4 linked regions of the Homo sapiens genome follow. The protein of the gene in region 4 purifies or fractionates together with the protein of the main gene of each other region. This does not show direct contact. Each region holds a gene or a part of one and is shown on either strand. Other genes may lie near its edges.

The links.
Region 1: the proteins of BCL9L (region 4) and MTSS2 purify together in Homo sapiens (affinity purification with mass spectrometry; one large-scale study listed by BioGRID and IntAct). This does not show direct contact.
Region 2: the proteins of BCL9L (region 4) and ISL2 purify together in Homo sapiens (affinity purification with mass spectrometry, with the first as the bait; one large-scale study listed by BioGRID). This does not show direct contact.
Region 3: the proteins of BCL9L (region 4) and SH3PXD2B purify together in Homo sapiens (affinity purification with mass spectrometry; one large-scale study listed by BioGRID and IntAct). This does not show direct contact.

What each region holds. Positions count from the first base shown.
Region 1 is NC_000016.10:70,664,300-70,671,558, forward strand, and holds part of MTSS2 (protein MTSS 2), read right to left. Parts: intron 4,748-7,259; coding exon of another isoform or gene 4,664-4,747; exon of another isoform or gene 2,980-4,663; intron 2,314-2,979; coding exon of another isoform or gene 2,215-2,313; exon of another isoform or gene 2,098-2,214; coding exon of another isoform or gene 2,041-2,097; intron 1,242-2,040; coding exon 1,167-1,241; intron 798-1,166; coding exon 621-797; intron 465-620; coding exon 299-464; intron 151-298; coding exon 1-150. UniProt on the Homo sapiens protein: Involved in plasma membrane dynamics. Potentiated PDGF-mediated formation of membrane ruffles and lamellipodia in fibroblasts, acting via RAC1 activation. May function in actin bundling.
Region 2 is NC_000015.10:76,334,085-76,342,071, reverse strand, and holds the start of ISL2 (insulin gene enhancer protein ISL-2), read right to left. Parts: upstream 5,300-7,987; 5' UTR 5,189-5,299; coding exon 5,131-5,188; intron 4,295-5,130; coding exon 4,105-4,294; intron 3,821-4,104; coding exon 3,558-3,820; intron 1,797-3,557; coding exon 1,513-1,796; intron 939-1,512; coding exon 771-938; intron 354-770; coding exon 237-353; 3' UTR 1-236. UniProt on the Homo sapiens protein: Transcriptional factor that defines subclasses of motoneurons that segregate into columns in the spinal cord and select distinct axon pathways.
Region 3 is NC_000005.10:172,443,096-172,450,354, reverse strand, and holds part of SH3PXD2B (SH3 and PX domain-containing protein 2B), read left to right. Parts: intron 1-7,259. UniProt on the Homo sapiens protein: Adapter protein involved in invadopodia and podosome formation and extracellular matrix degradation. Binds matrix metalloproteinases (ADAMs), NADPH oxidases (NOXs) and phosphoinositides.
Region 4 is NC_000011.10:118,900,391-118,907,649, forward strand, and holds part of BCL9L (B-cell CLL/lymphoma 9-like protein), read right to left. Parts: intron 7,213-7,259; coding exon 7,093-7,212; intron 3,063-7,092; coding exon 2,846-3,062; intron 2,685-2,845; coding exon 2,600-2,684; intron 2,519-2,599; coding exon 229-2,518; intron 1-228. UniProt on the Homo sapiens protein: Transcriptional regulator that acts as an activator. Promotes beta-catenin transcriptional activity. Plays a role in tumorigenesis. Enhances the neoplastic transforming activity of CTNNB1.

The sequences.
Region 1 (7,259 bases), on a different chromosome or scaffold from region 4:
CAGCAGTGGAGGCTGGGCGCTTGGTCTGGATCAGGCGGCGGTAGTTCTGGGCGATGTTGCTGTTGCGCGGGATGGTGGATGACTTGTCAAACTCGGGCGGGCCCTCGCTGTCCGCATCCCCATTCACGGAGTAGCAGTCGTAGTCGGAGCCTGGGGGCACGGGACACAGTGAGGCCCAGGGCCCAGGTGGCCCCTTGCCCCCAGCCCACCAGGGTGAGCACAGAGGGGGAAGGACGGGGCCCTCCTGGATGGCTAAGTCCCAGCTGTCCCTGGTCCCACCCCAGCCCCGCGGGCCTGCCTTGGGAGGGGATGGTGTCCTCAGAGCAGGAGGGCGTGGTGGTCTGCGTGCTGTAGCCGCTGGAGTACTGCAGCGAGTCCCGGCTGCTCTTCTGGTGCTCCAGGCTCAGGCCCCGCGTCAGCACCATGGCCAGGTCACTGGCGGCGGGGGACACCTCCTCACCGTGCTGAGGGTGGGAAAGTGCAGGCTGAAGCCTTGCGCCCCCAATCCCCTCTGCCCAAATTCCAGGCAGCCCTGCCAGGTGGTTGGAGCCGGCCCTGAGGCCACTGGCTGGGCCTCCTGGGACTGACCTGGGCGTGAAGGGGGGCCCTGGCCAGCCTACCTTGGCTGCGATGGTGGCAGGGGACATCCGGGGTCGCGGTGCCTCTTCCCCGCTGGGGCCCAGGGTGCCCCCACTGGCAGGGCCTGGCTCTGTGTCTCGCAGGAGCTCCACTCGGTCCTTCCTCCGCTGCAGAGTGGCGCCTGAGGGCTGCTCATGGGAGCCGACCTTGGACCAGTCCTGCAGGGAGGGTGTGGCAGGTCAGGGGGACCACTGGCCCTACCACCTATGGCCCGGGGGCCCGTCACTGTGGCTGAGGCTCAGGGTGTCCAGGGCTATCAGGGGGTCTCTGGTTCGCAATCACAGCCAAGGGCAGAGCATGGAGTGTGACTGTGGCCCCTCAGTCCCACCAGGCCCAGGGGTAAGATGTGGCTGTGTGGGCAGTGACTGTAGGAAATGGCCAGGTGGCTTGTCTCTTGGGGACAGGTGCTGTGTGCACGCACCCCTGGCTGAACCCAGGCCCTTTGTGCAGTAATGGCACCAGGTGGGGAGGGCATGGATGGGAGGGGCAGCTGGTGACTGTCCTGGGGCCGGGCTGGGAGCACTGACCGAGGTGGGGGAGCTGCACTCGCTAACGGACTGGCAGGTTTCCGAGGCCTCGGAAGATGCAGAGCTGGAGGACTTCTGCCATGCAGAGGCCAGCAGGCGGTTGCAGACAGAGGGGCCGGCAGGCAGCAAGGAGGAGAGGAGAGAACAGTTTTGGTCACAGAGCTGGCATGCAGGGGGGCGGTTCAATTCAGCGCCTTGCCCAGCACCCACCCCCCCTACCCCAGGGCCACGGCCGCTGAGTGTCTGCAGCAGCACACAGCAGCCCAGAGTGCACACGGTGAACGCTGACCCACCTGACAGCCCAGCCCTGCGCATTTTGAAGACTGACCACAGGACTCACTGCTGACGGCCTGGATATGGCCACCGAGGGGAAAAAGAGATACTAAGGGCGGCAGCTGGGTGTTTGGTCTGAGCAGTTGGGTTGATGGTGTCACAGTTTTCTCAGACAGGACACGGGGGAAGTGTGAAGCCCCGAGTGCCACGCTGAGCACTGAGCTGAGCTGCCTCTGAGGTCTCTGCATGGATGCAATGAGGGCCGTCGTATTCATAAGCTGAGTGCAGGGAGAAGTTGGGGTTGGAGCCATCAGTGCAGTGGTCTTGGGGTGGGATGAGGCCACCAGGCAGCGAGTGCAGTTAGACAAGATTCAAGGGCCAGGCCCGTGGCTGCTGATGCGCATCAGGTGGGAGGGAAGAGGAGAGTCCCGTAAAGGAGAGCCTGCTCTGCGGAGAAGGGGGGCAGCTGTGCTGATGCTGCTGGGTGGGGCCATCGGCTTGGGGCACAGGGTGTCCATGGAGACCCCGAGGAGAACTGCTACCATAGAAGGGGGTGGGGGAAGGCTGTTTTAAAGTGGACTGAAGTATGAAAGGGACACACCTGCTCTGGGCAGTGGGCTGGACTAGGTGTTCTGCGAGGCCCCCCACTCCTAAACAACTACAAAGAATAAAGAAAAAAGCAGGGTAGACACAGGCCCATGAAATCCTGAGCATGTGTGACCGGCAGGGTTCCCTGGGGCAGACGCCAGCTTCAGCACAGCAGTGGGGACGTGGATCACGGTGAGGTGTTGGCCTGGGAATGAGCCAAGTTAAGCCAGGGCAGCCCCCTTCCTCCAGCTCTCTGAATCATTCTGGATTTAGATCCCCAGATTTCCTGCAGATTCGAATGAACCAAGATCACCAAAATAAAAGGAAACCAGGCACCACCTGTGAGGATTTGGAGGAAATAACAAATGCAGACTTTTGGCAATATGACGGTTAAAGTAAAAAAACTCAATGGAAAAAGTATTTGGAAAACTCAGTGAAAAAGTTCAACACTTGCTCATGAAAAACAATACAAAGACACAAGCTGCTAGAAAGGAAGCTAATCTGATAAAGAATATCTACAAATGCATTGATACTTTTCCCTCTGAGGTTGGGAGAAAGACAAGGATGCCCACTGTCATCACTCCTATTCAGCACTGGAAATCTTAGCCAGTGCAATAAAGCAAGGAAAAGAAATAAAAAACAAATGGATTGGAAAGAAAAGAAAGAAGGCCAAGTGTGGTGGCTCACACCTGTAATCCCAGCACTTTGGGAGGCTGATGCATAAGGATCACTTGAGCCCAGGAGTTCAAGACCAGCCTAACATAGTGAGACCCCTGACTCTACAAAAAATTAAAGTTAGCCAGGTGTGGTGGCACATGCCTGTGGTCCCAGCTACACAGGAAGCTGAGGCAGGAGGATATCTTGAGCCTAGGAATTCAAGGCTGCAGTGAGCTGTGATCACACCACTGAACTCCTGAACTCCAGTGTGCGTGACAGAGCAAGACTCTGTCTCAAAAAAAAAAAAAAAAAAAAAATCACTATTTACAAGTAACATAATAGTATATGTAGAATATTAAGAAAGAATCTACAAATTATTAGAATTAGTAAGGGGTTAACCCTTTAACAAGATTATTAGAACAAAATCCGAAAAAGATCAATCACATTTCTAAATACCAGCAGCTAACAGGAAAACAACACAAAACAAAAAAACAAAACCACCCTAAAACATCAGTGTAATTTACGATAACATCAATAAACACTAAATACCTAGGGAAAAAATTCCAATGACAGATATGCAAGATCTTTACACAAAAACTACAGAACAAGCTGGGCATGGTGGCTCACACCTATACTCCCAGCACTTTGGGAGGCCAAGACGGGAGGATCACATGAGGCCACAAGTTTGAGACCAGCCTGGCCAACATGGTGAAACACTGTCTCTACTAAAAATACAAAAATTAGCCCGGCGTGGTGGTACATGTCTATAATTCCAGCTACTCGGGAGGCTGAGGCACGAGAATAGCTTGAACCCAGGAGGCTGAGGTTGCAATGAGCTGAGATCGCGCCACTGCACTCCAGCCTGGGTGACAGAGTGAGACTCTGCCTCAGAAAAAAAACCAAAAAACCAAAAACCTCTACAAAACATTACTGAGAGGCAGTAAAGCCTAAACAAACAGAGGGATATCTGCAATTCCATTCAAATCCCAGGAGTTTTTTTTTTTTTTCCTTTTGGTAGGAACTGACAAGCTGATCCTAAAAGTTACATGGAAATGGAAAGGGCCGAAAATAGACAAAGCGGTACCAAAAAAAAATAACCAAGCTAGGGGACTTCCATGACCAGATATCAAGATTTTCTATAAAGTCTGGCTGGGTGCAGTGGCTAATGCCTATAATCCCAGCAATTTGGGAGGCTGAGGTGGGTGGATTGCTTGAGAGTAGGAGTTTGAGACCAGCCTGGCCAACATGACAAAACCCCAATACAAAAAATACAAAAAATTAGCTGGCTGTGGTGGTGCACATGTAATCCCAGCTACTCAGGAGGCTGAGGCATGAGAATTGCTTAAGCCTGGGGACAGAGGTTGCAGTGAGCCAATACTGTACCTCTGCACTCCAGCCTGGGGGACAGAGTGAGACTGTATCAAAAAAAAAAAAGACTTTTTATAAATAATTAAGATGGTTACAATAATTAAGATGGTGTGGCATTGGTATAAGGCAGAGAAATCAACAAGTAGGACAGAGTGCCAAGTCCAGAAATAGCCACACACCTACAGACACCTGACTGATGATGAAGGCAGCACTGCTGTGCACTGAGGAAAAGAAGATGCTATGCTCCAAATGTCTATGTCTCCCCCAAATTCCTCTGTTCAAATCTTAACCCCCAAGATAAGGTATTGAGAGGTGATTAGATCATTAGGGTGGAGCCCTCATTAAAGGTTTTAGGGATCTTATAAAAAGAGGTTTAAGGGAGCTAGTTTGCCCCTTCCACCACTGAGGACACAGCAAGAAGGTGACATCTATGAACCACAAAGTGGGTCCTCACCAGACACCGAATCTGCTGGTGTCTTGATCCTGGCCTTCCAGCCTCCAGAACTGTGAGCGCTACATTTCTGTAGTCTAAGCCACCCAGGTTATGGTATTTTGTTACGGCAGTCCAAATTGACTAAGACAGATTTTTTTTTTCAATACACTGTTCTGGGTCAATTGGATATCCATATGAAAAAAAGGACCCCTACCTCACACCACACACACACCACACACTCAATTCCAGATGAGCTGCAGATCTAAAACAAAAGGGCAAAACCAAAAGGCTTTTAGAGGAAAACATCTTTGTGACCTTGCAGTAGGCAAAAATCTCTCAAGCAGGACACAAATAGCACTAACAATTTAAAAATGGATAAACTGGACTATTTTAAAACTAAGAACTTCTGGTCATTAAAAGACCCCCATTAAGACAATAAAAAGGTACCCAATAGAAGGAGAGAAGATATCCGATGAGGAACTTTATCTGCAATACTAAAAAGTTCTATAAATTGGTAAGAAGAAGACAGATAATCCAGTAGAAAAATGGGCAAACGATTTAAAAAGGTCCTTCATGAAAGGGAATATTCTAACGGTCTTTAAAGGTATGAAAAGGTAGCTGGGTTCAATGGCACACATCTGTAGTCTCAGCTATTCAGGAGGCTGAGGTAGGAGGATTGCTTGAGCCCAAGAGTATGAGGCCAGCCTGGGCAACATAGCAAGACCCTATCTCTTATAAAAAAGTATGAAAGCTGGGCATGGTGGCTCATGCCTGTAATCCCAGCACTTTGGGAGGCCAAGGCGGGCGGATTACCTGAGGTCATGAGTTCAAGACCAGCCTGGCCAACATGGTGAAACCCCGTCTCTACTAAAAATACAAAAATTAGCCCAGGTGTGGTGGCACACGCCTGTAATCCCAGCTACTCGGGAGGCTGAGGCAGGAGAATTGCCTGAGCCCGGGAGGCGGAGGTTGCAGTGAGCTGAGATCATGCCACTGCACTCCAGCCTGGGCAACAGAGTGAGACTCTGTCTCATAAAAAAAAAAGTATGAAAAGGTGTTCAATCTCATTAGCATTAGAGAAATGCAAACAAAATATACAGGGAACTACTATTACTCTGCACCCACTAGAATGGCTAAAATGAAATCAATATAAAATGCCAAGCGCTGGTGAGGATGTGGAACAGCAATGAACTGTCATAATCTTGGCCAGGTGTGGTGGCTCATGCCTGTAATCCCAGTACTTTGGGAGGCTGAGGGGGGTGGACTGCCTGAGGTCAGGAGTTTGAGACCTGCCTGGCCAACATGGCAAAACCCCATCTCTACTAAAAATACAAAAATTAGCCAGGTGTGGTGGCATGCGCCTGTAATCCCAGCTACTCGGGAGTCTGAGGCAGGACAATCACTCGAATCCCAAGGATGGAGGTTGCAGTGAGCTGAAATTGCACCACTGCACTCCAGCCTGGGCAACAGAGTGAGACTCTGTCTCAAAAACAAAACAAAACGACACAAAACAAAACACTGTCCTAATCTTGCTAACAGGAGGGTAAATTGGTATGAGCACTTGGCTTACTGTCTGGTAGTACCTATCAAATCTGAAGATGTGCATATCCCATGACTTTGCAATTCTGCTCCTAGGAATGTGCCCCACAGAACTGCATACTAGAATGTTCACAGCAGCACTATTAGCAACATCATAGCCAAAAAACTGGAAACTATGCAAATGTCCATCAAAATGGTTAAATTACATATTCACACAATAGAATGCCATATAGCAATGAGCATGATCTATATTTCCACCTAAAACATGGCTGAATCTCATAAACATAACTGAGCAAAAAGAAGCCAGACATAAAGGATACATACTATATGATTCCATATATACATGTAGAAAGGATAAAAAGGGCAAAACTAGGCCATGCCTGAAATCCCAGTGATTTGGGAAGCTGAAGAGGAAGGATTGCTTGAAGGTAGGAGTTCGAGACCAGCCTAGGAAACATAGTGAGACCCCCATCTCTATAAAAGAAAAAATATAAAAATTAGCCAGGCATGATACTGCACACTCGTAGTCCCAGCTAATTGGGAGGCTGAGGCAGGAAGATTGCTTGAACCCAGGAGTTTGAGACTGCACTGAGCAAGGATTGTGCCACTGCACTCCAGCCTGGGTGACAGAGTGAGACCCTGTCTCAAAAAAAAAAAAAAAAAAAAAAAAAAGTCAAAAGTAGTCAGGATAGCAGTTACCCTTGGGTGTGTAGTGACTTAACAGAGCACTGCTGGCTTCAGGAGTGGTGGTTATCCTGCTTACGTTCTTGTTCTCGGTGTGTTTAGAATACCTCAATAAAAAAGTTCCTTGGGCAGGTGTGGCAGGTCATGCCTGTAATCCCAGCACTTGGGAGGCTGGCACAGGCGGATCACTTGAGATTAGGAGTGATCCAACATGGCAAAACCCCGCCTCTGCTAAAAATACAAAAATTAGCTGGGTGTGGTGGTGTGTGCCTGTAATCCCAGCTACTTAGGAGGCTGAGGCAGGGGAATGGCTTGAACCTGGGAGGCAGAGGTTGCAGTAGCCAAGATCGCACCATTGCACTCCAGCCTGGGCAATGGAGCGAGAGTCTGTGTCAAAAAAAAAAAAAAAGTTCCTGAAAGACTCAATGGTGATGGGTTATAACCCATAGAATAAAAGAAATATTTATGAGTCCATATTGATATAAATTAAAAATTGAATATATAAATAAATGGGGGAGAAGGGACAGATCTTTTTATGGTAGAATCTCAAT
Region 2 (7,987 bases), on a different chromosome or scaffold from region 4:
CAGATTCTGGTTTTGAAAAACTAAGAGTCCTCGGAGCAGGGGTCTGCAGTCTGGTGAAAGCAGGTTGCATCCTGGCGCCTTGGGCTGTCCAGACCGTGTCTCTCGGTACTCTCTCATAAATAACAATAGAATAATTACGAAGGCGAGAGAGCTTTCGGAACTGGAATGGCCTGAGCATGGGTGAGTCTCATGCAGGGAGCATGCGAGGTCCGCGGGCTGGCAGGGAGGGGTCCCCCTCACGTCTCCACGGGACTCGGCACCATACTGTTGGGGGTGTCCGGGAGCTGCGAGGACAGGGAGGTCACGTCGCTGCCGGAGGAGTTGCCTAGGGAGCCGGACTCGGAGAAGGAGACCTGGGGCGGCGGAAACACCGGGAAGAGGCAGGTGAAGAGGCACGCGAGCTGGTGCTCCAGGGCCGCGTGCTCCGAGTCGGAAAGTGTCCCTTGGGGACCGGCCGCCAGCTGAGAGCAAGCCCTGCGGAGAAGGAGGCCAGGTCCCCAGGCGCACGAGGGGGGGATTAGGGCGGGGGAGCGGGTTGGTTAATCCTGCGACCTCTCTTGTGAGCACTTTAATCCAGGGAGACCTGGTTTAGGGCGCGTAATGGGCCGAGGTGAGGTTTCAGAGCCCGCCACTGTTCCCCCTCCCCCACCGCCTAGGGCTGTACCCAGCCCCTCAGCCCAAGGCCACCCCCTCCCCTCTCTGCCAGGCTAAGTGGCTAAATCCCCAACCCGCAGAGTCCCGAGGTCGGGGCGGGTAGGGCAGGGCCTCACCAGCTGTTGGAAGGCGGGTTGGTCCAGGTCGCTCTGGAGGGCAAACTCGCTGAGCGCCTTCCACGGCGGCTGGTACGTCTGCACCTCCACTGCGCTGCCCTGCACGGCGTTCTCATGGCGGATGGGACTGCCCGCCACCAGGGGCGTCCCAGTCAGTCCCTGAAGGCTCTGCGGGGCAAGCAGAAGGCAGTAGGTGCTCGAGTTAGGTCTGGCCTTTTCTGCCACCTTTGAGACTGGAGCTCCAGGCCTTGAGTGATTTAGGGTCTGCATTGCTTTGCGGGGAGGCGCACACTCGATCGCATCGGAAGAGCCCTCTTTCTCCACTGGGGATCTGCGGGGGCCGCAAACTTGCCACGATAGGTCAGCCTCGGTGCTGGAAGCCAACCGCCCGGTGAGGAAAGGCAAGACCTGCACTCCCACCTTTCTGCAGCTGCCGACGGAGTGCACAACCCACCAGCCCGACTGGCGGGCGCTGCACACTGCCATGCAGCCTTGGGCTCCGCGCAGCGCCCGGAACCCGCAACGCGGGGCTGCCACTGGGACAAGGAGAAACCCCGATCCCAGACAAAATAGGAAGCCTCAAATCCAAGGGAAGCCTTGCTGTGAAGGTACAGACATACACCATCTGGAGCGCCCAGTTCTCCCTGGATCTCCCAGGGCTCGCCCAGAAAAGGGCACGCAGATACCGCGGCGGAAGCGCAGCCCCCACCCGACTCGAGCCTCCGGCCCAGCGGCTGCTCACCGTCTTGTCGCTGTGCTGCTGCTGCTGCAGCTGCTTCATGAGAATGGATTTCTTCTTGTCCTTGCAGCGCTTGTTCTGGAACCAGACGCGGATGACCCGCGGGCTCAGGCCGGTCATCTCCACCAGCTGCTCCTTCATGAGAGCGTCGGGCCGCGGGTTGGCGGCGTAGCAGGTCCGCAGAGTGTGCAGCTGCTTCTCGTTCAGCACAGTCCGCACGCGGGTCGTCTTCTCCGTCTGCTTGTGCACGTGCGGGCGCAACGCGGGCTGCCGGCCCGACCCAGCGTCTGCCAGGACAGGGTGAGGCCAGAGGTTAGCGAGGGGCCGCCACCCACCCGCCCCGAGCCCAACCTCCGGGTGGCCCAGCCCCCCGGGGCCCGATTTCGTTTCTGTTTTATTCTGTTTGTTTCGTTTAATTGTTCGTCTTCCTCTCCATCTGTTCGCCTTACTCGGAGAGAGCTGTGCATTTTCGTTCTTTCTCTCGCTCCCGGGCCGGACTGCCCCGCAGCGATCTCTCCCGAGCTCAAGCAGGGCGCGGGAGCTCGGCGACAGGCCGCTGCGGGGAGGGAGTGGCTGCTCAGGGATGTGCCTCCTCCAGTCGCAGGACCCTCGGAACGAGCGAAGCCCTCCGGAAGAAGTCGGAGTTTCAGAGGAAGAGGAAAGAGGCTTGCCCAGGACTCTGGAGAGGGAAAGGGACCGACGTGGACCCAGGGCGAGGCGCTGCCCAGGGGACTGGGTGGGAGGTGCGAATATGCCGGGGGCCTACGAGGGCCCTTCCCCTCCTTCAGAGCCCATTTGGACAGGGCCAGGCCACATGTGTAGAAGACTCATCCACGGTTATGGACGGGCCTCCAGGGCTTGCAACAGTTCCTTCCTGCCCGCCCTTGGGCTTCGGCCCCTGTCTCCTTCCTCAAGGCTCCAGGTTCCCCAGCCCAGTGGCCTCCCACCGACCAAGGTGCTGAGCAGCCGCTGGCACTCTCCTCGCTTGGCCCCAGGTTCTCTCCATCCCGGGGAAACAGTGACTGATTCCAGAGCCTGCACCCTGAAGCCCGAAACAAACAAAGGGGAGCCTCTCCGAGATCCCAGATGGGGGTGCACTGAATACCCGCTTGCTCCCATTTCACATCTCCATTTGATCCCGACCCATATATACCGTGGATCTGTACTGCACCATTTCGGTTTATGTTCCCCTCTACGAATTTCTAGGTCTGGACAAATATTTACAAATAGCCCATCCAGCCCAGTTTCCTCTTTCTATAGGGAGGAAGTGAAGATCCAGAGAGGGGAGGAGCGGGGCAAGGCCACACAGCACCCAGAGGCCCAGCCTGGTCTACGGATCTGTGCTGCAGGCCTATGGCTACCTGGGGGAAACTGCCTTGCCTGGGGTGGAGGCACCTCTGTTTCTGTTCAGCCGTACCTGCCCATTATACACTCAGACCCCATCTCTGGGCAGCTGCTGATTAGGACCCAGAATATTCCAGTGACAGTCCACTATGCATTGATACTCCCCCTCCCCCAGAAGAACCTGGCTAAATTGTTCATCAAACTGGGCCTCAAAACAAGATGGCAAAAACCCCTCTTTGTTGGGTTCTTGGCTCCTGGCTGACCAAGCTCCTGCCCAGCTCCCAGTTTGGAGCTGTGTTACTTACACACATACCCCTGGGCAAACCTTACCCTCTGACAATAACACATATTCCTCCAAGAAATTCCTAATACAAGCCCCAAGACGGACACCACTTAAGATTCCCTGTTGTCATCCACTCTTCTGCTCCTAGCACTGTGCCCTGCATGTTCCTGGTCATGGAGAACACGATTCTGCACAATTCTCCGTGCTCACACACTCATACACACGCAGTTTCTCCCGAGCACACGAGAATACACACAGCCTTGTTCCCAGCACACAGTTCCGCACTGATACAGAAAAACACTATCCCGGCAGACGGAACCACACACAACTGACAACTTCTCGTTAGGGACACAAGCGTACCCCTACACACACGCACGCACATACACCCCGCTCACCCCGGCACAGGCCCCGGCGCGCTTACCGGGCAGATGCAGGCCGCGGGCGCCGGGAAGCGGGCCGGGGCTGCGCGGGCTGCCGGCCGCGGCGCGCTCGAGCAGGAGGCCGTGGTCGGCGCGGCAGAGCAGCTCGTGCTCCCGCAGCGAGAACTCGTCCCCAGGCAGCAGCTGGCGGCTGCACACGGAGCAGCGGAAGCACTCGATGTGGTACACGCTGTCCCGCGCCCTCATCACCAGGTCGCTGCTGCTGAAGCCCACCTGGCACTTGGCGCACTTGATGCCGAACAGCCTGCGGGCCCAAGGTGCGGCGGTGTCAGCGCTGGGCCTGCGGCCGCCCTCATCTCCCTGGCTGCTACGGCTCCGGCGCGCGCCCAGGACACTTTGTGGCCACCAGGAGACTGCGGTGACCCGCCTGCGGGCATTCCCGGGCCCGGGGGAGCGCTGCGGCACCCGTGCGGGATGCGGATGGCCTTCTCCCTGGGCAGGGCCGGGGCGCGCGGGCAGGCCGCCATCCCCAGTCCCGGCCCCGGCCCCTGCGCGCGGTGGCCCAGCCCGCGTTCCCGCCGGCCTCACCTGACATAGTCCCGCTTGCAGTAGGTCTTCCCGTCTCTCACGAAGCACGTGCACGTCTCGTCCAGGTACTGGCTGCACTCGGCACACTTGAGGCAGGCCGCGTGCCACTCGAGGTCGGGCGACACCCGCAGGATAAACTGGTCGTGGATCTGACTCCCGCAGCCCACGCACATGGCCGTCCCGGGCTTCTCTGCCGGGGAAGGGCGCGGGGCCGCGTCAGGCCTGACTGCCCGGACCCAGGCCGGCCTCGGCTACTCCAGCCCCAACCCAACCCGCTCGCTCTCTTGCTCTTTCTTTCAAGACTTGCGACCATAAGGAAAGATGATGAGCTCTCTAAAGGTCCAGGGCATTGGAAACGAAAAACCAGTATCTTGTGGATTGCTGAAGGTTTCTTCTGTCCCCCACCCCAAATATTTCGTTATTACATTCATTAATGACAGTCGTTTTGTCGACGTGTCTTGAAACTAAACGCAAACACGAAACTAAGAAGAGAGTAAATACACAGGCACTGCGGACGCCTGGATATCAACACCTAACGGTGCTGTCCTGGCATTTCCGCTCACACACTCCCACTCACAGCGGCTGCCTCCTATCCCAACACAGACACATCGTCTTTCGGCAGTCCCCGCTCATCCTCTCAGACATTTCTTAGTTTAAATATCCCAGAGCAAGCGAAAGAAAGCTTCCTAGCTTTGAAAAACCGAAAGGCAAACAAACAACAACCAAAAAAAAAAAAACCCACATCCCTAAATCAAACCTAATTGCCTTTGCGCAAAACAGAAGCAGATTTCGCAGCCCGAAGTCATCCTAGCCGGCTTGAGAAATAGTGTTTACTTATAAAATAAAACAACAGGATTCCCAAAGATAAGCAGTCCTGCAGGAGACATGCATTCGTTTTTCCTCTCCTAAACTATTCTGACAAATAGAAGCCACTTGTAGAATCCACTAAACATTTTTCTGCATTAGAAATTTTGCATATTAAGCATACACACACACCCCACCCCACACACACACAGAAATACTTACTCTTGGAATGATCACCCATAGCACCCAGAAAAGGATAATGAAAAATAATATCCACCATGCAGAAAAAGAGATGTGCGCAAAGTGTGCGGCCAGGGGCAGAAGGACGAGGGTCGCGCGCCCGGCCTCGGCTCTTTGCTAACTAACTCCTACTGCCCCGCGGAGTTGAAGGAGCGATTCCGCACCGGCCCGCACGCAGCATGACGTCAACACGCACTAGCCCCGGGCCGGAGCTGGGGGCGGGACCTGTGGCGTCACGAAGCTTCCCCAGAACTGCCGGGGATGCGGGGGAGGTGATGGGGATCCAGGGGCTGATGGGCGGGGTGGGTTGGGTTGGAGGCTGGGGGTGAAGGGAGATTGGCTGGGAGGAAGTGGGCCAACCCTGATTGGCCCGGAGTGAACAATGGAGTGCAGCCCCCCCACCTCCGAAACCTACAAGGATCCTCTCTCATGCCCCGGGCCTGGCAATCTGGACTGGACCTTGCGTCACCGCCGAGCTGGCTCCGCGGCCGTTACAACTCTGAGCTTCCTCTTGGACTTTCGGGGCGGTTTTCCCAGGCGCGCTGGAGCTGGGTGATGGATACCTGAGGGTGGAGATGGCTCTCCTTTAAGAGCTCCCTTCTTATATAAATTAAAAAAAAAAAAATTAAACCCACTCTCAGGACGAGAGAGCCGAGGACAAGGGGGATCCGTTTGGACGTGACCGTCATCGTCCAGCTGGTCACCTTTCTCCTCTCATGTGCCTTTGTTCTTCGGGTCCAAGCTAGAGAGAGTGTAGAGAATGACCACCTGGGTTCTGATAAACTCTATTTAGACTTTCCTATCCACACACACGTAGAAAACTTTAGATTGGGGCATTACGTGGGTTGAGCCAGAACCCAGATCCAAAAGCGCTCACCCGGGACTGGGACGGGTCCTGACTCCATCCTTGCTGCTGCTGCCGCTGCTGCTGCCCCTCCTCCCTCTCCTCCACCACCACCTCCTCCTCCTGCTCCACTTCCTTTTTTTTGTTGTTTTGTTTTGCTTTTAATTTGTTGCTGTTGTTGTTTTAAATGTAACATGGACTTCCCCGCCCCCTCATTTTTCCCCCATCCAAATGGCATAGCTCCTTTTAGGAACACTGCTGGGGTCGATTGCGTGTCCAACTTCCAAAATAAAAGATTTTTCTAAACTCTTGTCCTTCATTAACAAACCCACTGCAATGCAAATAATCAGAAACGAACGTAAGGCGCTGGGTAATTTACAGTGGTATCTGCGAGGCGGCGGCTCGTTGGTCCTGAGAAAATCTGAGAGCTCTGAGCACAGTCCAGGCATTCTTTCAAAGAAATCGCTGTGGGTTTTGTTTGAAAGGGTTCAAAGACCGGCCCATGAATTATAAATAACATTTATCCAACCATGGTGTCTGTTCTTGTTTTCCCATTAAAAGGAGTACCAAGAACTTGGTGTGCGCCTGGGTGGGGCGCGAGGTGAAACGCCTGCGGATAAAGTGTCTCCACCGCCATTCCAGACCCTGCCCAGACCTTCGGGCTTGTGGGCCTGAGGGCGCGGTCGCTACTGCCGTTCTACTAAGAGCATGAGGTTGGTTGGCGTCGAAACGGATGCAGCCGAGGGCGCAGGCCGAGGCTTTGCAGAAGGCTAGGGCGAGGCCCCGAGTGCACGCTAACATTATTCGACCATGGTCCACGGTGAACGTTCCTCACCGGCCCCGCGCTGGGGCGAGCGCTTTAAGCCTCGTCCAGTAGCGTCCGGCTTTTGAGCTCCGCCTCCACCTTTAGGAGGTCTAGTCTTCTCACCGGTCCGGCTTTTTTTTTTTTTTTTTTTTTTTTTTTTTTGAGATAGACTCTTGCTGTGCCGCCCAGGCTGGAGTGTAATGGTGCGATCTCGGCTCACTGCAACCTCCGCCTCCCGGGTTCAAGCGATTCTCCTGCCTCAGCCTCCTGAGTAGCTGAGATTGCAGGCGAGCGCCACCACGCCCCGCTAATTTTTGTATTTTTAGTAGAAACCGGGTTTCACCATGTTTGTCAGGCTGGTCTCGAACTCCTGACCTCGTGATCCGCCCACCTCGGCTTCCCACAGTGCTGGGATTACAGGCGTGAGCCACCGCGCCGGGCCACCGGACCGGCTCTTGTTACAGTTTACCACCCGTTGGCCAATAGGCCATTTCTTGCGTCTTTAGTCAACAGTCCCCCAAAGAGCGCTCACCCTGAGTGTGTGCGGGCAGGTCAGGGGTTGGGGGATGCTGCGTTTGAATGAATGTGTTTATGTAAATGGGGGACAAGAGCGAGGGGGTGGGTATCTGTGCCTGAGGCTGTGCCAGGACACCTGTGTGACCTCAGGCATCTTATTTTAATTCTCCTTCCCTCAGTTTCCTCATCTGTAAAATGGGGGTATAATAATTGTAGCTATCTCTATTACATAATAATTAAATAAACTGTTCTCTGGAAAGGGCTTAGAGCAATACCTAGCACAGAGTAAGTGCTCCATATGTGTTAATTATGACAGTTATGACTGTGGCTGTATCTTTATGTTGGGAGCCTCTGCCCACCCTGCCTGCGTGTGTCTGGATGGGGAGGGGAGGTCTAAGTATGTCTCAGTATGTGTCATCTGATGATTTCTTTGTGATTTCGATGTGTGCTTGCTGTGTGTGTGTCTGCTGTGTAGATGGGGTTTGGAGATGTGTGGTCTGTGCATAGACTTTGTGTACAGGTTATATCTGTGAATGTGGGTGCACAGTCAGAACTGGGAGGGGACTCGGTGTGTGTGTCTGCATGTGGAGTGAGGAGGTGCGTCTGGCCCAATGGCCCTACCCTTAGGTGACCCTGGACTAGGCCTGGCTCCCAGCACCTACTAGCTCTTGCTC
Region 3 (7,259 bases), on a different chromosome or scaffold from region 4:
AGATGCAAACCCCCCGGACGCCCTCCCCGATGCTGCCCCTCCCCCATAAAACCACTATCCTGCATTTGATGTTGATCATTCCCATGCACTTATAAAAAATAGACTAATAGATAGGATTTTTTTTAACAGCTTTCTTGAGGTATAATTTACATACCATAAAATTCACCCATTGTAAGTGTGCAATTCACTTATTTTTAAAGTAAATTTGCAGAGCTATGCAACCGTCACCACAATGCAGTATTATAACATTTCCATCATCCCCAGAAAGATCCCCCACGCCCATTTGCCATCAATCCCCTTCCCACCACAGCCCATGGACCTTTTAATGTTTTTCCCTTTTTAACATTCCCTAAAATCTTGTATTGTCGTGAATGTTTTAAAACTATAAATAAGCACTTTTGAGATCTATGTCGATCCAGCTAGCTCCAGTTCGTTTTAACTGTCGCTTACTATGGCATTGATGAACATGCCCCTGTTTTTTCAAGCTCGTGCCGGGAACTGTTAGGATGTTTCCAGCAGTTGACTTTCTTACAGCTGCCTCCTTGCACAGGGTCCCACGGTCTTGGGGTTTGTGTGTTTTCAACTTTGCACTTACATCCTCAGGGTTCCCTTTGCTCTCTGTTCTTGCTAACACTCCGTATCATCAGACTTTTCAGTCTTTGCCAATCCAATAGGTGCAAAAGTGGTGCTTGTTCACACCAGTGAGGTTGAGCAGCTTTTCATACCTTTATCGGCTATCTGAGTTTCCTCTTCCGTGAATTACCAGTTTTTGTCCTTTGCCTGTTTTTCGATATATTGGGTTATTTGTCTTTTATTGATTGGCGGGATTTATTTATACATTTGGGATACTAATCCTTCAGGTAATTACATTAGTTTTTTGTTTTCCCCTGGAGGAGTCTGCAGATTCAGAGAGGTGGAGGCATGTGCCTGAGGTCACACAGCAAGGAGTGGCTGCGTGGGAATTGGGCTACATGCCCTTGTGTCTGGGAGAAACATAGGGGGATCCTGTGATTCCACCACGGAGCTGACTGACCTTGGATGGGTCACTTAGGCTTCTGGACCCCGGTTTCCCCTTATATGAGATACTGGGGCCATCCCAGGCCCTTCTCTGATCTCACCATTTATTCAGCCCCGACTGAAGAAGTGCAAGCCACCGCCAGCCCTTAGTCATTCTCACCCCAGGAAGCTCTGGGTAGATGGTGCCCCTGGAGTGATGGCTCTGCAGGCTCTGTACTGCCAGCCCTGAAACCTCCCTCTTTGATTTGCCAGGCTCCAGAAGCCTAGGGGTCACTGTGCTGAGCAGCTGAGTTTGGAAGAGTAGATTGCGCCCTTAGTAGGCATTACTGGCATTCTCAGTCCCTTAAGGGGCCTCCAGCAGGTGAGCCCAATGGTCTAGAACAAACCATGGATCTGCTGCCCAAATTAGCTTCATTATCTTCTCCAGCCCCCAGTTTCCTCCCTCTCCTCCTATCCCTGGCACCTGTTTTGTGGGAACACAGAGGGCAGGGCAGCAAAGTTGAGTGGAAAGAACTCGGGTGTTAGAGGTAAACATCTGGGTTCAAGTTCTTCATGGCCTTGGACAACTGGCCGAATGCCCCCCCTTAGTTTTTACATTTGTAAAATAGGTGCAGTGACTTCCTTCTGGGACGATTGTGCAGGCTTTTGGTGATGTATGCACGGAATCTGTGCTCCAGCCCTGCTGCTGGGAAGAATAAAACTGCTAGCACATGTCTTTCCAACCCACCGTTACCTTCATGATGAAAAGACCTGGCTTTGAATTCTCTTCAAGCGCTCCTGAGCGGGGTGACCTTGCACTATGTGAGGATCTGTAAAATGGGAATAGTCATAGTACCTAGCACACAATGCTCAGCCTCATGGGTATAAAAGGCACTCAATAAATCACTTGAACCTGGGAGGTGGAGGTTGCAGTGAGCCGAGATTGCGCCACTTCACTCCAGCCTGGGTGACAAAGGGAGACTCTGTCGGCAAAAATAAAATAAAGGTACTCAATAAATGGTAGTCATGAAAAGTACTATTGATGATAATAATAGTCGTGATCTAAATTTCTGCACCGCTTTCCGGCCTGCTGCCCAGAAGGCACACTATGCAGTTTTCGTGGTCTTTTCATTCAAGAGGCATTCTGGGGGATACCTGCCCCAGGCTGGGCCCATGCTGCTGCTGGGATAGGCCCCCGGGAGCAAGGCAGAGCCATTCCTACCTATTGCACAGGAGAGTTCTTGTCCTCTACTGTGTCTGTGTCACAAGAGTTAGGGCCCTCTTAAGGCCCCTTGGGTAGGTTTTTCTTTAACGACTATTGCTTTCTTTGGATTGGGAAAAAGTAGGTGCTTGTCACACAGGCAAGCTATGTATGCCAAGTGAGTGGCAAGCAAAGGGCATTTCTGTGTTGATCTGGGATGCTCTGCTAGGGACCTGGTCAACCATGCTCCCCCATCCCATCCCCCACCCCACCCCATAGGTGCAATGCACCAGCCCCTCAGCTCACCTGGCCGGTCATCCTCAATGGGAGAAGTCCCAGCCTGCTCTGGTGCACTCTGTGCTGCTGCAGGTGTCTCAGGGTCAAAGGAGGTGGAGCAGTCATATCTTCAAATTATTTAAATGTCACTTTAGTTCAGACTTTGAATCAATGCCATTCTGCGCCTCTAGTGGGCTGAGAAAGTACATCAGACAGCTTGGGTTCAAATCCCTGCTCTGCCACCTACCAACTGTGTGACCTCAGACAAGCCTCTGTGCCTCAGTTTCCTCATCTATAAAATGAGGATAAAAATAGTTCCAATTTCATAGGGCTAATGTGAGAGTTAAAGGGGCCTAGCATGTAATTGAGGTTTGATAATGGTAAACTATATTAGGAGTGTACAAACCTAGTATCATTTATGATCATAAAAGGTTGGTAACTACTTAAAAGTGCATCAGTAGAGATGCAAAGATAAAACGTGCTATATCCATGAGCTAGAATACCATCAAGATGGTAAAACTGTGTTCCATCTTCTATCACAAGCATATTAAATAGCTAAAGCTGGTTTGCAAAATAGCATGCTCAGGCTGATTTTCACCTGATTACAAACGAAGGATGAAAATATGAGTCTGTGTAAGCTCAGAAATACAGCTGATAAAATGTCATTCCTTTTTTTTTTCTGCTTGTCTGTGCTTTTCTGTGCTTTTCTCTTTTCCGAATGTTCTGCAATGAACACATATTCTTGTTTTTAGTAAAAATAAAAAAACAGCAAATGCTCATTTTTAAAAAGAAGCTGCGTCAAGCTGGGGCAGCTCCAGCCAGATCCCCACATCCTGCTGCCCCATCCTGTCCCAAAGGATTCTCCTGTCCTCCTGAGGCAGGCACCAGCCTTCAGAGGCTCTTTCCCCACTCCTGCCACAGAGGGAGGTCTCTGGATGTGGCTTTCCAGTCCGTGAGCTAGAGAACTAGAAAGCGATGAGTTTAAAATACCACGAGGGAAGGTCTGGGCAGATGCTTTCCTAGTTAAAATGTTCCTTGCTCAGCAAGTCCAGGCCCTTCCCCATCGTGCTTGCAGCCAAATAGGGTTGGGAAGAATTGTAGGCTCAAGTTCTGCAGATCCAGCATGGTCTGTACCCTAAGGTCACAGGGCACCAGAAACGTCATCCAGGTTAGAGGTGTGCCCTACAGCCCACTTCCCTGGGCGTTTCATGCATCCTCTTGCCTCCCACCGGAGGTGCAGGCAAGTCGGCAAGCAGCCCAGTTATCACACTGCCAAACAAGGAAGGCTAGAGGGACTGTGCCGTTCCCGCCGTGACACTCACGTCCTGCTTGCAAATTGTGCATCCTTTTTTCCTCGGAGAAAGAGCTGTGGTAGCGGGAATGTCAGGGGAGCAGTCTTGCTTTGCATGACTCAGTTTTCCCCTTCCTCTTGGCGATGAAGCCAGCTGTGGGTCCCTGCAGCTGCAGGAAAGGGAGCCACTGCCCCCCGAGCAGCCTGTTAGTCTGGTGGGTTCAACCAGGGAGTTGTGAGCACCCACAAGTGGCCAAAAGAGAAGACAGGTTTATTGAGAAGGCCATGTGGCTTCTGCAGGCAGGGCCTGGGTTCTAATTTGGTTCTGTCATTCACTCACTGTTGGCCCTGAGCCTTCTCTGGGCAGTAGGGGGCTTTGTTGGGGAGATCCAATGAGCTTTTATGCAGAATGCCTGAGGAGGGGTGCTGCTGGCCTGGGTAATGCCCAGAAGCCGAGGCTCTGTGGTCCCTATCCTAGAGCCCTTGTCGGGGGGGTCAGCTGGCCCCTGGGTGGAGCTGGCATCCTTTGCCCACTGACGTGACACGGGAACCAGCTGACATGACAGACTCAGGAGGCTCAGTGCCTCCAGCAGTGGGCCGGGGGCAGGGCTCGTGTGGCTGCCTCCTCCGGACTCTGCCTCTGCAGAAGCCTGCGGACCTGAGCTCCGCCACAAGCCATCGGCCTCTGCCCCATTCTCCAAACTGCAGGACTTTCTCCTCCCTTATTTGCTGGCCCAGATGCACACCTGCAGGCGGGCATGACTCTCAGCCCAGGGTCTTCTTCAGGTGGTAAAGGGAGGAGGGGCTGTGGGCAGAGCTCACCTGCCTGCTTCTGCAGCCCTGTCTCAGGCTTTCCCAGGGCTGAGGGTGGCCAGAGTTAGCAAATGAAAATGCAGAATGCCCAGTTCAATTTCGGTTTCAAATAAACATGCAATATTTGGGACATATTTATGAGAAACAATTATTTGTTGTTTATCCGAAATTCAGATTTTACTGGTCATCCTATTCTTTATCTGGCAAAGCTGCCAGAGCTACCACTTTGGAAAAACAGCAACCACCACCAAGAAGCCTTCATTATAAGGGCTGGGCATGGGAGTTCACGCCTGTAATCCCAGCATCTTGGGAGGCTGAGGCGAGAAGATCGCTTGAGCCCAGGAGTTCAATACCAGCCTGGGGAACATAGTGAGACCTCATCTCTACTAAAAATCCACAAAATTAGCTGGGTGTGATGATTCTCGCCTGCAATCCCAGCTACTTGAGAGGCTGAGGCAGGAAGATCGCTTGAGCCCAGGAGATGGAGGCTGCAGTGAGCCATGTTTGCGCCACTGCACTCCAGCCTGGGCGACAGAGATGACATGTGGATAGACAAAGCAGGGATTGAGACCTCAAGAAGGTCAGTGTCCTGACAGGCAGACAGGTGCCCTGGGCTTCTGGGGGACCTGGTCCTGGGGAAGGCAGCACTGCAGAGGTGACCTGAGGCCAGTCACAAAGCATGGGAGGGATGCTGCCAAGTGGGCAAGGGTGAAGGAGTTACAGGTAGAGAGAACAGGAGGGCAAAGAAATGGAAACCCTGGCACATGGCGTGTTTGAAAAAGCAGAAGAGGTTTGAATAATGGAGATGAAGCTCTGTGGGTAGAGGGGCCAGAAGGACCTGGGGGCTCCTGGCTGACCTGAGAACCACAGGAGAGAAGGCATGGTCCCCCCCCAGGAAGGCCATAGCTCCAGTACAGCACACGAAGGCTGAGGCCAGGGCTCGGGGCCAGAGGCAGTCACTGGAGTAGCGGGAGGAGCTGGTGCTCAGAAGCACTTCCCCAACTTGAGGGGTGGGTAGAAGAGCCCTTCATGGGTGAATCCAGGGAGCAGAGCACAGACAGACCCAGGAGCCCCTGTCCAAATGAGCCATGTGCAGACAGTGGAGATGGAGGGAGAGAGGGAAGGTTATTAGAGGGGACTCTGCAAGCCAGTAGTAATCCTGAAATTCCAGGGCAATTAAATAACTCCAAATTTGTTTTGTTCTCAAGATTCAATAGTAATTTTTTATTCTTAACAGTATAGAAGAGCTATCATTTGTCTAAGCGCTTACTATGTGCTCAAGGCTTTTCATGCTTTATGTCTTTGAATCCACATAGCAGCTCTGTGAGATAAGGAGTATTAGTCAGGATTCTGGGATTGCATGTGACAGAAACAGACCTGGCTAACTTAAGCCAAACAGAATGTATTGGAAAGGTGGGGCTGTCAGAATCAGGGGGAAAGCTCAGCACCCAGTCTTGGAAAGAACGTGGGCAGCTGGAGCCATCCAGGGAGTGGGAACTCCAGTAGGTATTAGGACATCACCAGGCAGGCAGCTGATCCATCCATTTTCAGACCTTTTAGCCACTCAAGAGTCCAGATCCAGGAGAGACTCTGACTGGCCCAGCCGGATTACCTGACCCTATGGGCCAGGTGTGAGTGGGATATTAAGATCGACGGTCCCACTGAAATCACTGGTAGTGAGAGGGATAGTTGTGGAAGGAGATTCAGGGCGCTGTTGCTGGGAGAAGGGGGCATGGAGCTTGGACAGGCAAAAACAATACATGTCTGCTACATGGATGCTGTTATTAGCCCATTTCACAAATGTGGAAACTGAGGCTTAGAAAGGTGAAGCAGTTTGCCAGGATCACTTTTGGCTCCCCTGCCTATCACTGACTGGTAATAAGGGGATAGTCACTTTCCCAGCCCCGACCTCCGTCCTGAATGGAAAAGTTGCCTTCAAGCACATAAGCATGGTATTTTCTGTTTTGTTTAATTAAGCAGAATTGCATGGCCCCCCGCCCGCTGTGCTGGCAAAGAAAGCTAGAACCCACGCGTTGGCGTCACCATTTCCTCCTCCTCAGCCAAGGTGTGAATCAGCAGCCTGTGGCTTCAGGCCACTGTTGGCTTCCAGTCAGTTCCACAGATGTGGGTTTATTGTCTGCCCTGGGCCAGGTCTGGCCCAGAGCCAGAGAGAGGCTAAGATGACCAAGCACAGTCTTGTCCTCACAGAGGTCACCATCTGTTCAGAATGCATCTCCATAGGATAAGGGCTGCGACAGGGCCTGGAGTACCCGTTCCTGCTGGGACAGAGAGGTGCACTGTCAGCTGGGTTCAAAAGCAAAGGGGTGTTCAGGGGCTGGGAAAGCTGACTAGCAGTGGGGTTCTTTACATGGGTGGAATTCAGAGGGCCCTTGAACGTAGAAGGGGAAGAATTAAATCTTAATTTTCACTAACCTCCGACTGAAATTTAGCATTGCCTTCTGTGATGAATGAAGGCAGCAACTCGCGGTGATAGTAGTAATACATGTGACTTTGTCACAAATAGCGATTCCCTTATTTTCATCTTACTTGACAGTCGTTGCGTGGATGCCTGGAGAGCATCTATACTCCTTACTATTTCCAAGTTACGGTGTCATTAGACCCACCACGAGGTTCTGTTATTTGTGGTTTTAATAAAAACGTACATATAGTCATAATTTTGTT
Region 4 (7,259 bases):
AAGGGGAAGATCCCAGGCCCCAAGTACGATCACTCAAAATGCCTGGGAGACTCACGTGGTACCCCCTGAGAAAGCCCACAAATGTCATCATCTGCCCCATAAGCAGAGCCATCCACCTCTGGGCCCGTGGTACACAGGCCCTTACTCACTCACTGCCCAGCCCCAGCATGGACACACTGCTCAGCGCCTGCCTGCCTGCCTGCCTGCCTGCCTGCGCAATTGACTCACCCTGTTCCATGTTGCTCAGGGTGGTGGAAGAGTTCATGTTGAGAGGCGGCTGCTTGTTCTGGGAGACCCCCGGGCTGGGCATGGCCGTCTTAGGTGAGGCAACCCAGCCTGGAGAAGGCACCGCCATGGAAGGAGACTTGAGCCTGCTGGGCGAGCCAGTGGGTGAACGGACACTGAGGGAGGAGCCGAGGACCTGGGGCGACTTGAGAGGTCCTGGCGGGTTGGCAGAAGGCAAGGGCACCATCTGTGAGGGAGTCTGGGGTGACTTGAGGTTGGCAGAGGGCGAGGTGACCAGGGGTGAGTGCACCTGGCTAAGGGTGGGCGACTTCAAGTGCCCCATGCCCGGTGAGCCCATCTGATTAATACTGATGGTGAGGTCCGAAGGCCGCCTGCCTAGCCCCCGGTTTGGGGCTGAATGCACGGTCCCAGGAGGATTGGACGCAGGGGGCAGAGGCATGTGGCTGAGCCGGGTGGTGCCCACGTTGCTCATGGGCATTGAGCTCTGATCAGGGCTGAACATGTCTTGGGTATTGCCCATGTCCTGGGACATGGCTTGGTAGGGTCCCTGGCCTCCAGAGAATCCCTGCTGGCCCTGGTTGGGAAACTGTGAAGGCATCAGCATCTTCTGCGGGCCGCCCATCACGCCACTGCTGTTCTGGGCCCGAACCCGGGCCATCTCCTCAGGACTGAGGCCCTGGGGCCCCATCAAGTCCCCAGGGCCCCGCATCTTCTGCGACATCAGCATCTGCTGCTGCGGGGTCATCTGCACGTTCAGGTTCATGTTCATGTTCATGTTGACATTCATGTTCATGTTGAGGTTGCCTGGCCCCATGGGTGGGTCCACCTCCCTCAGCCCAGACTGCCCCATGGGAGGGCTCAGGAGGCCCCGGCCTCCACCAAACTCCATGCCCATGGGAGTGCCCGCCAGGCCCTCACCACCAGCCATCTGCCCGGGAAACATGGCAGGATCCATCTGTCGGTGCGCCTGCATCATCCGCTCCATCTCCATGCTCTGTCCCATGCCACTGCCTGCCATGCCCAGGGGGCGCTGCATGCCCATCGACCGCTTCTCCAGCAGCTGGTGCCGCAGCAGCTCCTCACGGACCCGGGGAGTCATGAATCGCTCCGCCTCACCCTGCCCACCTGGGTAGGGCATGGTGTTCTGGGCAAAATTGCTGGGTCCCCCCATAGGGGGCAAGTCTTCGGTCCAGCCCATGCCTGGTCTCACGGGCCTCTGCATGGCATTCATGGGCACCTCCATGGGCATACTCTGCATGCCCCCAAACCCAGGTACCCGTTGTATCTGGTTGCCTGGGAAACGGGGCCCAGGAAAGGGAGGTCCGCCCCGGAGCTGCATGGGATCTTGAACATCCATGGGCCCCCGCAGCTGCGCACCCATTCCAGGTGGCCACTGATCCCCAGGCTTGCTGTGGTAAGGAGGCGGGGGCCCCCTCACCATCATGCCCCCCATGCCCATCATGTCCTGCAGAGGACGGCTCCCATGCAGCCCAATCTGTTCCTCTTTCCGCCGTTTCTCTTCGTAGTACTCCTCCTGCAGCTTGCGCCAGGCCACCTGCTCAGGCGTGAGGCTGTCCTGGCCCAGCCTCTGTATCATCATGTTCATCTGCTGCCCCATGTCCCCACCCGGGGGGTGCCCAGGCACTTCATGCTCCAGCGGGGGGCCCCCTAGGCTCTGTGTCTGTGAAATCATGGACTGCAAGGGTTCCTCATATTTCTTCAGCCCGCTGGGAGGGGCCGTGGGTGGCTGCTGGGGGGGAGGGGGGGCTTGTGCTGGTGGGCCCCCCTCACCCGCTCCTCCTGGGGGCCCCTTGAGGAAGGGCTCAGTCTCTCCGCTGCGGAGCAGCAGTCGCTCAATGTCTCGCAGCGTCTGGAGGGACCGTTCCCGATGCTCCAGCTGCTCTTTGGACAAGCCCTCTGAGCCCACCAGGCTGCGCTGCCCATTTCCAGGGGCGGCTGCCTCCCCCAGCAGGGCAGGGCCGGGGGCACTGCTGGGGTCTCCTCCAGGAGGCAGAGGGTTGTTGGCGGTGGTAGCCGTCGGGGTGTTAGGGTGGGTGCCCCCAGTCCCACCACCTGTGCTGGCAGCTCCCACCGAGTTGGGGGCCAGGTCCTGACTGCTGTCCTCAGGAGGCCCCTCTGGGGGCAGAGCAGGCGGGGCACTGCCAGGGGCCGGGGGTGGCGGCGGCGGCAGTGGAGGTGGCTGGGACTGCGGGGTGCCTGCTGACGGCGTGCTCAGGGGTAGCGGTTCTGGGGTGGGGGGCACTTTAGGGGCCTGCAGAAGGACAAAGAGAGCATGAGACAGGTAAGGGGACGTTCCACCCAGTCCTGCTGCTCACAGAGGCGCCACGCTCACCTGGTCAAGCTTGGCCCGGGGCACGTTCTGCTGGTGGTAGGCGAGGATGGAGTCGGCCCGGCCCTGCAGCACTGCCTCTGCAGCCCTGCACAGAGTGGGGGCACCGACAGCTCAGAGAGGTGAGCAGGAGGGAGCCCCACCCTCACCCACCCCACCCTGCCCCTGCACGGGGCTCCCTCGGAACCCCAGGCTGAGAGGTGCTGGGCAGAGAGAGAGAGAGACTTGGCCTGCCCACCAGGCACTTACGTGTTGGCCAGGTGGGTGGTGAAGACATATACGAACTGCGAGGGAGGCTTTCCGGGGACGCCCCCGCCCCCGCCCCCGCCCCCAGGGGCATCAGGCCGAAGGCCAGGAGGAGGGCCGTGCGGGGCGCCTGGCACGCTGCTCTCGCTGAGGGGCAGTTGGGTGGTTTGGCCGGGACCCAGCTGTGGGGCCGCCATGGCTGGGTCTGCTACATTACAATCTGCAGGAGAGAGGACAGGGAAAGGGGCTAAGTGGTCTAGATACAAGAAGGACCAGCTGATGCCCCCTCCCACTGATGCTCACAGCCTTACAGCTCGTGCCCACAGGGACATTTGATGTCAGTATCTGGTGTTCTCACCAGGCTGGTTTCCACGATGGCAAGAGTGGTGACCATGTGGAGAGCAGGGACAGAGAAAATGTGTCCTCTCCACAGGCTCCCATGGGCCTGGCATTCTGCTGGGGACTTAACAGGTGTGATTTCATCTCATCAACACACCCTGGGAGGAACGTGTCACACACTCCACTTAACAAAGGAGGAAATAAGTTCCTCACCCACAGTTACACAGCCAGTTAGTGCAGAGCCAGAACTGAACCCAGGGCCGGGACTCTGAAGCTCCGCTCTGAGCTGCTGCCCCTCTCACTGGGTAAGTGTATGTGCACACAGTCTAGTGACCCAGTTAGGGAGAAGGCAGAGAGGGTACACAAGCTGATGATCCAAATGATGGATGGTTTTTCACTCTAGCCCCACCACTAACTGACTTTGTGATTTTATGAACCAGACATCCCTCTAAGCCTCGGTTTCTTCATCTATAAAATGTAAAATACTAACCTCCTCCTTGCACAGGGGGCAGGCCAAAGAAATATATTTTTTAACAGTAAGTTTAAATCAATGTCACAGACTAAAAAAATCCATTTGAAAAACAGAGAGCCGGGAGCGGTGTCTCACGCCTGTAATCCCAGCAGTTTGGGCGGTAGAGGCGGGCGGATCACCTGAGGTCATGAGTTCAAGACCAGCCTGGCCAACATGGTGAAACCCCGTCTCTACTAAAAATACAAAAATTAACTGGGCATGGTGGCGCATGGCTGTAATCCCGCTACTCAGGAGGCTGAGACATGAGAATTGCTTGAACTTAGGAGGTGGAAGTTGCAGTGAGCCGAGATCACACCATTGCACTCTAGCCAGGGCGACAGAGCGAGACTGTCTCAAAAAAATAAATAAATAAATAAAAATAAGAAAGAAAAAACAGTTAGAAAAAGCTGACATACTGGAAACACTCTCAAGACAGACCAGCTGCCCTCAGCACCAAGGGAAGTTTTGTTCCATGGTTAGACACTTGACTGTAAGTCTTAGCGTAGAAAAAAATCTACAACGGGTCTAGGTGAGTGGGTAGACCCATTCGCATGCCAAGAAAAGCAAGTCACAGTTCCTGGCCCGCAGACAGTAAGTACCAGCATTCTCAGTTAATGGGAGACAGATTGCCTGAAGTTGTCTCCATCCAGCCAGGGCAGTGACCACCTTCCCATGGGCCCAGTGTCAGGCTGCCCTCTTTGGAAAAAGTTTCTTCTGCACCTTCTTCTCTGATGGACCCACCCCAAAACGGCCCTGCTCTGGACCCTATCTATCCAATTTTACATAGAAGAGCAGAGCCAGAAATTTGCGGGGGAGCTTGAGAGCTGACCTCAATGTGTGAAGGCTGCTGAGTAGCTCTTGGATACGAGCTATGGGGAGACAGGCAGGGCTTAGTCCAACAAGGAACTTTCTAGTACAATAACAATGATAAAAGCTAACATGTTACATGTATAACCTCATTTACTCCTCATACCAACCCTATGAGATAAATAATACTTTTACAGATGAGGAAACTGAGGCCCTTTCCCAAATTTACAGAAATAACCTGGGTTGCAAACGAAGGCAGCCTGATGGCAGAACTAGTCCTGTCAATGTCTACGTTCTATCGCCCCTCCAGTAAGAACTCTTCAAGAATCTAAGGGCAGGCCGGGCACGGTGGCTTATGCCTGTAATCCTAACACTTTGGGAGGCCGAGGCGGGCGGATCACTTGAGGGCAGGAGTTCAAGACCAGCCTGGCCATAATGGTGAAACTCCATCTCTACTAAAAATACAAAAATTAGCCAGGCGTGGTGACGCATGCCTGTAATCCCAGCTACTTGGGAGGCTGAAGCAGGAGAATTACTTGAACCCAGGAGGTGGAGGTTGCAGTGAGCCGAGATTGTGCCACTGCACTCCAGCCTGGGCAACAGAGTGAGTGAGACTCTGTCTCAAAAAAAAAAAAAAAAAAAAAGAATCAGGCCGGGTGGCTCACGCCTGTAATCCCAGCACTTTGGGGGGCTGAGGCAGGTGTATCACCTGAGGTCAGGAGTTCAGGACCGGTCTGGCCAACATGCTAAAACTCCACCTCTGCTAAAAATACAAAAATTAGCCAGGCGTGGTGGCAGGTGCCTGTAATCCCAGCTACTCGGGAGGCTGAGGCAGGAAAATCGCTTGAACTCAGGAGGCAGAGGTTGCAGTAAGCCGAGTTCGTGCCATTGCACTCCAGCCTGGGCAACAAGAGTGAAACTCCGATTCAAAAATAAATAAATAAATAAATAAATAAAAGAATCTAAGGGTAGTACGACTAAAATAGTCGCCTTGAGTATGGGATGTTAGCAATTTCTACTTTGTATTTCCCTATGTTTGCCAGGCACAGTGGCTCACTCCTGTAATTCCAGCACTTTGGGAGGCCAAGGCATGAGGATCGCTTGAGACCAGGAGTTCAAGATCAGCCTGGGCAACATGGCAAGACTGTCTCTACAAAAATTAGCCAGGTGTGATACATGCCTGAGCCCCAGCTACTTGGGAGTCTGAGATGGGAGGATCACTTGAGCTCAGGAGTTTGAGGTTGCAGTGAGCTGTGATCACACCACTGCACTCCAGCCTGGGTGTCAGAGAGAGACCCTGTCTCTAAACAATAAATAAATAAAACTCACAAAGTTTCTACAATGGTGCAGTCTGATGTGACATAAGTGAACTGGAGGTGGTGGCTATGGGGGGAGGTGTCTGGTCTGGGAAGCAGTAAAGGCTTCTATCATCAAAGGGTTCAGCCAGAGGCTTGGCGACCACCAGGTTAGTCCCACGGGGGAGAGAGAACTGATACAGGATGGTCTGTGAGGTTCCAGCTAGCTGTAGAGGTTTGGTATTTGACCCTCTACACCCCTGTCACAGACATAGTCTGCTCACTCCATAACATTTGCTGACTCTCTCTCCTCCTCTGTAATTGGCATCATGATAACACTGACCTCACAGGGCTGTTGTAAGGATTAAATAAAACAGAGTAGCAAAGTAGCCAATGTACTCTTTTCTTTCTTCTTTCTATGGTCCCTGCCTTCAAGGAGTTCACAATTTAATAGTCTCTGGCTAGTTTCTTTTTCTTCTTTCTTTACTTCTTTCCTTTCTTTCTCTCTCTCTCTCTTTTTAGAGATGGGGTCTCCCTATGTTGGCCAGGCTGTTCTTGAACTCCTGGGCTCAAGCAATTCTCCGGTTTCAGCTCCCCAAATTCTGGGGATTACAGGTGACAGCCACCACACCCAGCCTCTCTGGCTAGTTTCTTATGTCTCTCTCCTCAAAAAGATGTAAACGTAAACTTTGAGGGAAAAAAAATATGTACAAGCTTCCCAGGGGCAGGGGTTACATCTGGCTCTCCCCCATCACTCATGGAAGGACAAGATATAGGCGAATCCATAAAAGAATCAGAGGAGGAGTGGGCATCCCTCCACACCCACTTCTTGTCCTGGTGACACACCCTGGGTACTTGCCAGGAGTCAATTAGAGGTTAGGGAAGGGCACTAGAGACACGGCCAAGTGGCAACTCACACCCAGGCTTAGCAGGGCTTTGCACAGCAGAGCCAACTGCCCGGCTCCCAGTGTCCCTGGACGCTTCACCGCCCTCCCTCCACTAACCAGTAGGTGGCAGCATAGGCCAGGAATTCACAGGTAGAGGTGCAGGTGACGTGACCAAGAAGGAGGCCACTCCACTCTGCCCCACCTAGGGTCCCTAGGGAGAGGGGGTCACTGAGCACCTGGAAGGCAGAGGCGAGGCAGTTGCAGTGTAGGGAGGGACAGAGTCTGAGAGGTAGGATGGGAGAGAAAAATCCAGGACTCCCAGTCCTCACTTCTTTCCCAGGCTCAGTCCTCTCAAGTCCATCCCCCAGGAACATCACGGGCTACAGCACCCTGGCATCGACAGGCACTCACTGTGGGTGGCCCCAATGGGCTTGTCGTCCTCCTCACTGTCCGGTCCAGAGCACCATTCGTCCCCACTGTACGGCTGCTTCCGCTCCAGCACACAGCGCCGCTTACTCCGCGGCGCCACCTCTGCCCAGGCAGGACGGAGGAAAGAGTGAGTGCCTAGAGGCCCCATT